Linked DNA regions of Homo sapiens: region 1 is linked to region 2. A link means that fine-mapping ties the variant in region 2 to the expression of a gene that starts in the linked region. Tissue or cell type: lung. Region 2 holds a variant in brackets; the other region holds the start of a gene. All regions are shown on one strand. Distances are between the middles of the regions.

Region 1 (4,395 bases), 26 kb after region 2:
TAGGCCTATTCTCAGAGTAAATGCTGAAAAGCTCTCATAGCCCATATCTGTGTTTAGAAGACTGAGTCATATCCATCAATGTCAGAATATCAGAGCTAGGAAGATACCAAAACTCATTTAATTCAACTTATTTTACTGATGAGGAAGTGAAGCTTTGAGGGGTTAGATGGCTCTTCCAAGGCTGGTTAGCAACAACTAAGATTTGAAACACCATGAGGACAAGGACCCTGCCTGTGCATGCCATCCCCAGTGGGCATTCTGAAATCCTTAAAAACTATCACAGAGCCTGGCATGTAGCAGGTGCACCTAAATGTTTGGAATGAGGAAAGAAAAGAAAGCAAGGGGCTCTGATGGCCATGTCCAGTTTTCTTTTTAATATAAATATTAAACGCCAGAAAATGCAAGGATGGGGATGGAAGCTGAGCTCTGACTTTCACATATTGTGAAATGAGAATTTTAACACCATGGAAGAATCATTTTCTGTTTCTTCTCATCCCTGTGGGATGGTCCAATCCAAAAATCATTTTCTAGGAATGAGGCTCCTGAACCATTCCATGAAATCAAGCTCAGTTTACCCAAACTCAGCCTCGCCCAACCCCTACAGCCCAGCAGCCCCAGGAGGCTGGGAAAGAATTAAGAACAGTCCTGGGTTTAAAGTTTCCAAAACAAACATTGCTTAGCCATGCGGGGGCAGATCAGGCCATATAGCCCAACATGTGAAAGCAGGGAACATGGTAGTCAGGTCCCTTTGCCCAACTCCTTTTTTCCCTCGTGGGAATGAAAAGGCAGAGATGAAAAGGGAAGCAAGAAAAAAAAAAGATGAGGTTGGTGGAAAACTGATTAAAAAGCCCTGGTTTGCCAGCCAAGCATGCAAAACCATGTTGCACATTAAGTTATGCTCAACAACAGCTCAAACTCAGGTTTCTTATTTAGATATAAGGTTTAATATTAACCAAGTACATGACAAGAATTTCATGTCAAGGACAATGTAGAGCAATGTTTACCCAAGTGTGACCCACCTGCTTCAGAATCACCTGGGAAGATTCCTGGCACCACTCCAGGTCTAAAATCCTTTGGGCCTGGGAACTGAGAACCTGCCTTTCACCAAGCAAATGGGGGTTCTTACACACAGTCAGTTTTGAGAATGCCTGATGGAGAGAAACAGCAAAGTTTCCTAGAGCTGCACTGAAGGCACCTTTATCAAATGTAAGCAGGGGGCTGAGGCACAGCTCTTCAAGCTTTACCTAGAGTCAGGAACAGCGGGTGTCAGTTTTCCAGAGCAGAAACCTGAAGAGCATTCGAATCACTAGCTCTGTTCTGTGAAGCAGCACCACAGAGGTTAATCTCTCCAGTAAGATTCCCAGGCTATAAACACCAATTGGCTCCCAGAAATGCTCTTTTTAAGCTTTGTAATGCACACCAAGCAACAAGACTGGGTGCAATAGTTTAAAAAAAAATCAGAAACTAAAATTAAATACCTTAAAAACAATAAACAATTTCCATAAGCCAAAAATTGTTTCCTGGATTTCAAAATAAAATGAAAAGAAACTCTTTACAACAGCACCAAAGTCTCTGGACCAAATCTCAGTACTGAGCAGAGAGAGCCTAAAAATCAGTCCAAAAACTTCAGAACAAGGCCATTTCTTTGCCTCCCCAGCACTATCTCTCTTCCCCACAATGAAACAGAAATCATGTTTTTGAAAATATGTCTCCAAATATAACTAAACTTAAGCAAAGGTATCCAGACATTATCTCATCCAAATTTCTCTATGTTTGTACCATGAGGATATTATCTGTTCTGTTCATTTTTGTGTCTTTTCCCTTTGCCATTTCATTTAGCTGAGAAGAAACATTCTAATTTCAGAGGAAACAATTACACAGTTAAAAAATGGTTATTTCATTGGCAAGTGCCAGCACGGATGGACTGAGAAGAGTTAGAAATTTGTGTCACGTAATAAAAAGAATCTCAGTTTTGGCATTTGGTTTGTTAACACTGCAAGTTGCCATCTTCTGAGTTAACAGGAGAGTTAAACTTTTGCAAGCCTACTCTTGCAGATGCTTTGCATTGTTACTTGGCATTAATGATATCACACAAACAATCTCTGGGGCATTCTGCTAACAGAACATTCACAGTCACAATGAAAAGAAACACATAAAACAGATACTTACAGGTAGTGGTTTTCCTTTCCAAGACAAAAAGTTAGAAACCCTTGGAACTGGCGGGCAGGATAAGAGTCACTGACACAGCAATCTGGTTTAAAGGGCTTTGAGAGGAAGGGGGAGGAAAAAGAACCCCGGGAAGGAAGAGAGCTGAAATTCCAGTCTTTCAGGTCAGCTGTGTTTGAGATTTCTTTTTACTAAAAATCCATTAACCCACCTCACAGAAAATACAGAATTGAAGTTCACATACACACTCCACTTTCTTTGCTGGTCTTCTCCAAGGCAGCTGCTGCAGCTTTGCAAACTTCCTGAGCGCCAAGCCTCAGGACTCCCTGTGAGAAGGGCATGATAAAGATGCCTTCTACTGTTTACACAGAGCCCGACCTCCCTGGCGGACAGCCACCGCTAGCCCCGTGCCTTCTGCTGGTTGGGTCCGCAGGGACAAAACTGAGCTTTTGTTAATGAGGTCGGTTGCCTCTTCCCAGTCTCTTCCCAGCTTCCTTTCTCACTACTAGTTTTGTACTAACTGCTCCGCCACTCGCCGAGCCAGAGCAGCCTCTCCCGCCTGCAGCACACAGGCACACACACACTCAGACACAGGCACACACACATTCACAAATGGGCACACAGTCACATACAGACACACCCACTCACAGAGGTACACACACAGGCACACATACAAACACGATAGACACACAATCACCACACACAGACACATACACAGGCAAATGCCTTCACATGCATGCACACATAGTGACCCACCCCACACATGTGCATGCATTCTCACGCATGCTCCACACACACACGGGGGCACACACATACGCACAGGCCGCACATGCCCACACCCACACATGTACATACTCACACAGACTCTTCCAACACACTTTTTTTCTGCCCTTCTTTTCTTCCAACACATTCCCATCTTCAAAGGTTTTTATTTAAATTTAGATGAGAAGCCCAGCATTCAGAAGGGACAGGGCCCGTTTTAACTTTTGTCATGGCATTTAAGGGAAAAGATAGGATGGAACTAGATCCTAAGGTGCTGTTTTTAAGTACCACCTTAGTTCTTCCATTTGTAAGGCTTTTTGTGTGTCTGGCTCTTTTCGAAAACCCATAAAAATCCCATTAATCTGATCCATTTGCATATAGTGCGTGATCCCAATAATGCAGATATATCACTGGCCAAGAACTGTCCTCTCAACAGAGATTCACATAGTTAACTTGTCAGTATTCAGTGGTCTGTGAAAGTCTTAATCCTTAACAACTGTTTAATAAAATGCTTTCCTGTATTTTATTCCCACCAGGAAAAAAAAAGATAATGGCCTACCATCTGGCCTTCTAAATTAACCATAAAGAGAGAATTTGAAGTATTAACTCACTTTGGGGGAACTGTTTATATTAAGACATGTCTGGCTATCCTAAACCTTTGCCAAAAATATAGAACACTGTGAATCCAATTCAACCTAGATGTGGTTTCCCGTAACAAGGTCACAACACCATATGCCTTTCTTTGGAAGCCATAAGGAAAAGAGAGAGGAAAATGAAAAAGGAGAAGAAAATTACATGAGGAAGGAAGAAAGAAAAGAGAAAAATGTAAAGAAGAAAAGAATGCATAAGAAGGGAGAAAAAAATTATGTATTTTAAAAACATGCTTTGTGGTTACTTTAGCAATGAATGGTGCATATACACTTACTCAAAGTCATCGGAGATTTCAAATCTTCAAGAATTTCTTGATTCATTTTATTTGCTCTGAGAATAAGTAGGTGAAAGTTAAGAATCACTAAGCTCTTTATAAGTGAACAGATATTATTTACTAAACACAGTTATTATTAAATAAATATAGTGACAATGTGTGAGTCATATATTAATCCTGAAAAGGCAAGAAATAAAGCCTTAATAATGACAGTTAAGAAACACAGCATAATAGACAATTTTATTCCCCAACTGATTTTCAAAATTGCCCAGGTTGTGAATATCTTACCTGCAAAGAAATGAAGATGGTTTTAGAAGCTGTTAGTTGAGACTCGGATTCCATTTGACAAAGGAATTGTATACTATGTACAAACGGTTGCATCAACATGCTTATTCTAACATCTAAATAAGGTTTATAGATTAGTCTAGAAACTAATAAGGTTTATAGATTAGTTTATAGATAGATTATAAAGTTTATAGATAGATTAAGAGCTAAATAAGGTTTACAGATTAGTCTAGAAACAGAGATAAATGTCTTTATAT
Region 2 (4,395 bases):
ACCCAGAACAAAGACTATATTTCACAGTCTCTCTTGTAGCTATCTGCGGCTATGTGATCAGATTCTGGCCAATGGAATTGAAGAAGAGCAGTCACATGGTGTCTCTGAGAAACCTCCTTTAAGAGGTAGTTACGGTGTGCCTCTTCTCCCTTTTTCTTTATGCTTCCCTCCATCTTGTTGCCAAGATGGAAGGTGCTGCCTTGCACATGAAAAAATGAGGCTATGGCATAGGTTGGTGGAGCTGTGAGCTAGAAGGACCCTGGGTCTCTGGGCCATTTGCAAAGCAGAACCACCATACCAGTCCATTCATCCAGAATTTTACACAGGAGAGAATGTAAACTTCTTTCCTATTTAACTCACTGTTATTATTTTGTGTGTGTGTGTGTGACTCATGACTGAACTTAACTATACCTTTAATAATCACTTCTTCTTCAAGTTTTTGTATTAATTTTGTTTAGTCACTAATCAGCTAAAGATTTAACTTCCTACCTAACAGCATATGGGACAATAGTTCATTCTCTAATTATATCATAGTAAACCCTTAACTGAGAGATAAGGTCAAAGTCCAAGATCCTAATGTTTATCTGCCAGGAAGAGACAAGAGAAGAGAGGAGATATCTATTCTTATGGCTCCCTGCACCACAATGCTGTTGAAAGAATAGACTTGAATTTTGAATATCTGGATTCTAATCCCGATTATTATTTTTTTAATTTTCTTCTTATCTTTTTTTTTTTTTTGAGATGGATTCTTGTTCTGTCACCCAGGCTGCAGTGCAGTAGCACAGCCTTGGCTTACTGCAACCTCCTGGGTTCAAGCAATTCTCCTGCCTCAGCCTCCCTAGCAGCTGGGATTACAGGTGCCCGCCACTACGCCTGGCTAATTTTTGTATTATTTTTAGTAGAGATGGGGTTTCACCATGTTGGCCAGGCTGGTCTCAAACTCCTGACCTCAAGTGATCTGCCCGCCTCAGCTCCCAAAGTGCTGGGATTACAGGTGTGAACCACTGCACCTGGCCATGGATTCTAATCCTGATTTTTATGAACATACTTTCCTCTTTCAAAAATGGGAGGCTGAAGCAGGAGAATCGCCTGAACCTGGGAGGCAGAGGTTGCAATGAGCTGAGATCATGCCACTGCACTCCAGCCAGGGCAGCAGAGCGAGACTCCATCTCAAAAAAAAAAAAAAAAGGAATCACCCATCTTGCCTCCAAAGTTCCCCTGTCAGACCAATAATCTATGTGGAAATATTTTCTTAATTACAAACCCCCATACAAATGTTAACATTATTATTACAAAATATATCAAAGAGACAAGAAAGTAAAGCTTTCTCAGGAAAAACAGAGTAGAAGGAATTGGGCCTGGATGAAGGTGGCAAGGTGGCAAAATTAGGTTCAATAAATGTCAAATAGAGTCTGTTTTATTTACATTCTAATTTTTTCTTTCTCATAGTCTTACAACAGAATACATATTAAAAAACTAAATTTTGATATTTCAAAAACAACCTGAAGCAACACAGTTAGGAGGGGGGAAAAGTACAAGAGTAACAATTTCCAAATTCAAAATCAAACAAAACTCATCCTTCAATCAACTGAGCCTAGACTGAAGGCTGCAGAATTAGAAGCAATAAAGATCAAAAAGGGTATGCTTTGTTTGGTTTTATTTGCATTCTAATTTTGCTCTTGTATTTTTCTCTTGGTGTTGGGAAACACCAAGTATGTGGACATTCCATGGAAAATACTGCTCTTATTTTTGGCTTCAAGAAGGTGGCATGGGAGGGGAAAGAGAAAAGAATTCAGACGAGCAGACCGAGAAAGGGCCAGAAGAAAAACAGAACAACAGCAAAGCAAAGCAAAATTCTGAAGCAAACAAGATTTCACAGTGATGATGGGTCTTTTAACACCTCAAAATGAGACGGTAATAACTGTCTTGTCTCTGACACAAAATTACTATGTCCAGTGACAGCCAACTTCTACATGAAAAACAACACTCTAATGGGAAGCCTAGCACATCTTGAGAATTTTATTTTCTTAGTCCCAGCATAGGGCTAAGTCAGAGCCTCAGAATCCATCTGTCCACAGCTTGCTCTGATTGCTAGTATGGGCACCCTCAGGGTCGGCAGAATTATTGGGGGCAGCTAGAAGTGGAAGTAGAAAGGGCACCTGGCCATATTCCCCAAGGGAGCTTGTAAACTGACTTTTAGCCACCTCGGACTTGATTCAAATCCTTGAAACAAATCCTGGCGCTTTGGGAGGCCCAGGCAGGCGGATCACCTGAGGTCAGGAGTTCGAGCCCAGCCTGACTAACACGGCGAAACCCTGCCTCTACTAAAAATACAAAAATCAGCCGGGCGTGGTGGTGGGTGCCCATATTCCCAGCTACTTGGGAGGCTGAGGCAGGAGAATCTCTTGAACTTGGGAGGCGGAGGTTGCAGTGAGCCAAGATCGCGCCACTGCACTCCAGCCTGGGCGACAGAGCGAGACTCCATCTCAAAAAAG[A/G]AAAAAGAAAAAAAGAAAAAAAACAAGAAACAAATCCTGTCTTGGCTTGCTTGTGTGGCTCAGCTGTTTCTTAACATTTCGAAATCCTCCTGACATGACTGCAAATCAGTTCTGCTCTCCCTGACCATTTTCCCACCATTGCCTTTTTTCTTTACATGGTAATCATGTATTCTAAGTACAGTATATCTGTATAAGCCAATAAACGCCAATAAAGCTGTGTGAAAATTCTTTCTGAAATGTGAAAAAACACGCTGTTTTGAATTCTTATGAAAATTCATAAAGATTTCTTCAACCAAACTTTTTGGGAAATTTTTTGAACAGAAGAAAATAATTTAGTAACATAATTGGTGGAGGGGAAATGTGAGCTAGTATTTATTTCATAATTACACATTCAGCTTAACTATATGAGCATGTATTCTTCATGTTGATATAAACATGATACTCCTGTCACTAATTTGAGATAATCTGTGCACAACAAGAAAAAAAATGGATCTCAGCTGTACAGCTCTCAATGCAATGGAAATTCTTAACGGTCAATGGTAATGACGTGCCTTGATGAAAATAATATTTACTATTCTTCCTCTCTGGAATTTTGCAATGGTAGCTACCCAACACAAGGCAAGTGCCTTCCCCCTCCTATGCCCAGCATAGTTATCAAGATATCAATAATTCATCATAGCTTTTTTTTTTTTTTTTTTTTTTTTTTTGAGACGGAGTCTCGCTCTGTCGCCCAGGCTGGAGTGCAGTGGTGCGATCTCGGCTCACTGCAAGCTCCGCCTCCCGGGTTCACGCCATTCTCCTGCCTCAGCCCCCCGAGTGGCTGGGACTACAGCTGCCCGCCACCGCGCCCGGCTAATTTTTTGTATTTTTACTAGAGATGGGGTTTCACCGTGTTAGCCAGAATGGTCTCGATCTCCTGAGCTCGTGATCCACCCGCCTCGGCCTCCCCATCATTGCTTTTTATTTTCTTTGCTTTTTGCAGAATTCATATGTGGCCCAAAACTCTTCTCATTAGTGATCTAGGTAGTTATCACCATTTGACTAAAGATGACATAAGCAATGGAACATTTTTGTCTTCCCCAGGCTTGCAGTTATTACCCCTTGACTCACACAATTATTTATTGTTCGTTTTTACTTATTTTTAATTGAAAAATAAAATTGTGTATATTTATGATGTACAACATGATTTTTGTTTGTTTTAGAGACAGGGGTTTCACCCTGTCGCCCAGGCTAGCATGCAGTGGTGCGATGATAGCTGACTGCAGCCTCCAATTCCTGGGCTCAAGCAAGCCTCAGCTCCAGCCTCCCAGGTACCTGGGACTACAGGCATGCACCACCACATCTGGCTAATTGTTTTTTAATTTTCATAGGGATGGGAGTCTCACAATGTTGCCCAGGCTGGTCTTGAACTCCTGGTCTCAAGCTATTCTTCCATCTTAGCCTCCCAAAGTTCTGGGATTACAGGTGTGAGCCACCAGGTTAATGACTTAATTTAGCTGTTTTGCAATATATACATACACTGTTGTGTCATGATGTTTTGATATACATATACAATGTGAAATAGCTAAATCAAATAACTAACATATCTATTACCTTACATATCTTCTTTTTATGAGGAGAACATTTAAAATCTACTCTCTTAGCAATTTTCAACTATACAATACAATGCTGTTAACTATAGTAGTCATGTTGTACAATACATCTCCTTCCTTTGGACTAACTGAAATTTTGTATCCTTTGATCAGCACCTCCCCAGTCCTCCCTCCTCCCCAGCCCCTGGTAACCACCTTCTACTCTCTACTTCTATGAGAACAACTTTTTCACAACTTTAGGTCTTACAAGTACCCTAAAGTCATTTAAGAAATAAACTGCTGTGTGCGGTGGCTCACGCCTGTAATCC

The links.
Region 1: it holds the start of FREM1, and the variant in region 2 is fine-mapped to the expression of FREM1 in lung (TOPMed, PIP 0.93).

Annotation. Positions count from the first base shown.
Region 1 is chr9:14,907,745-14,912,139 of GRCh38, forward strand. FREM1 (FRAS1 related extracellular matrix 1) reads right to left here and starts at 2,684. Exons shown (of 37, transcript NM_001379081.2): 1 at 2,170-2,684. RefSeq lists an enhancer at 948-1,449.
Region 2 is chr9:14,881,741-14,886,135 of GRCh38, forward strand. All of the region lies in intron 1 of FREM1 (FRAS1 related extracellular matrix 1), which reads right to left. Among named protein-coding and RNA genes, the nearest start is that of FREM1, 26 kb to the right of the region's middle. The variant A/G (reference allele first, on the strand shown) is at 2,496.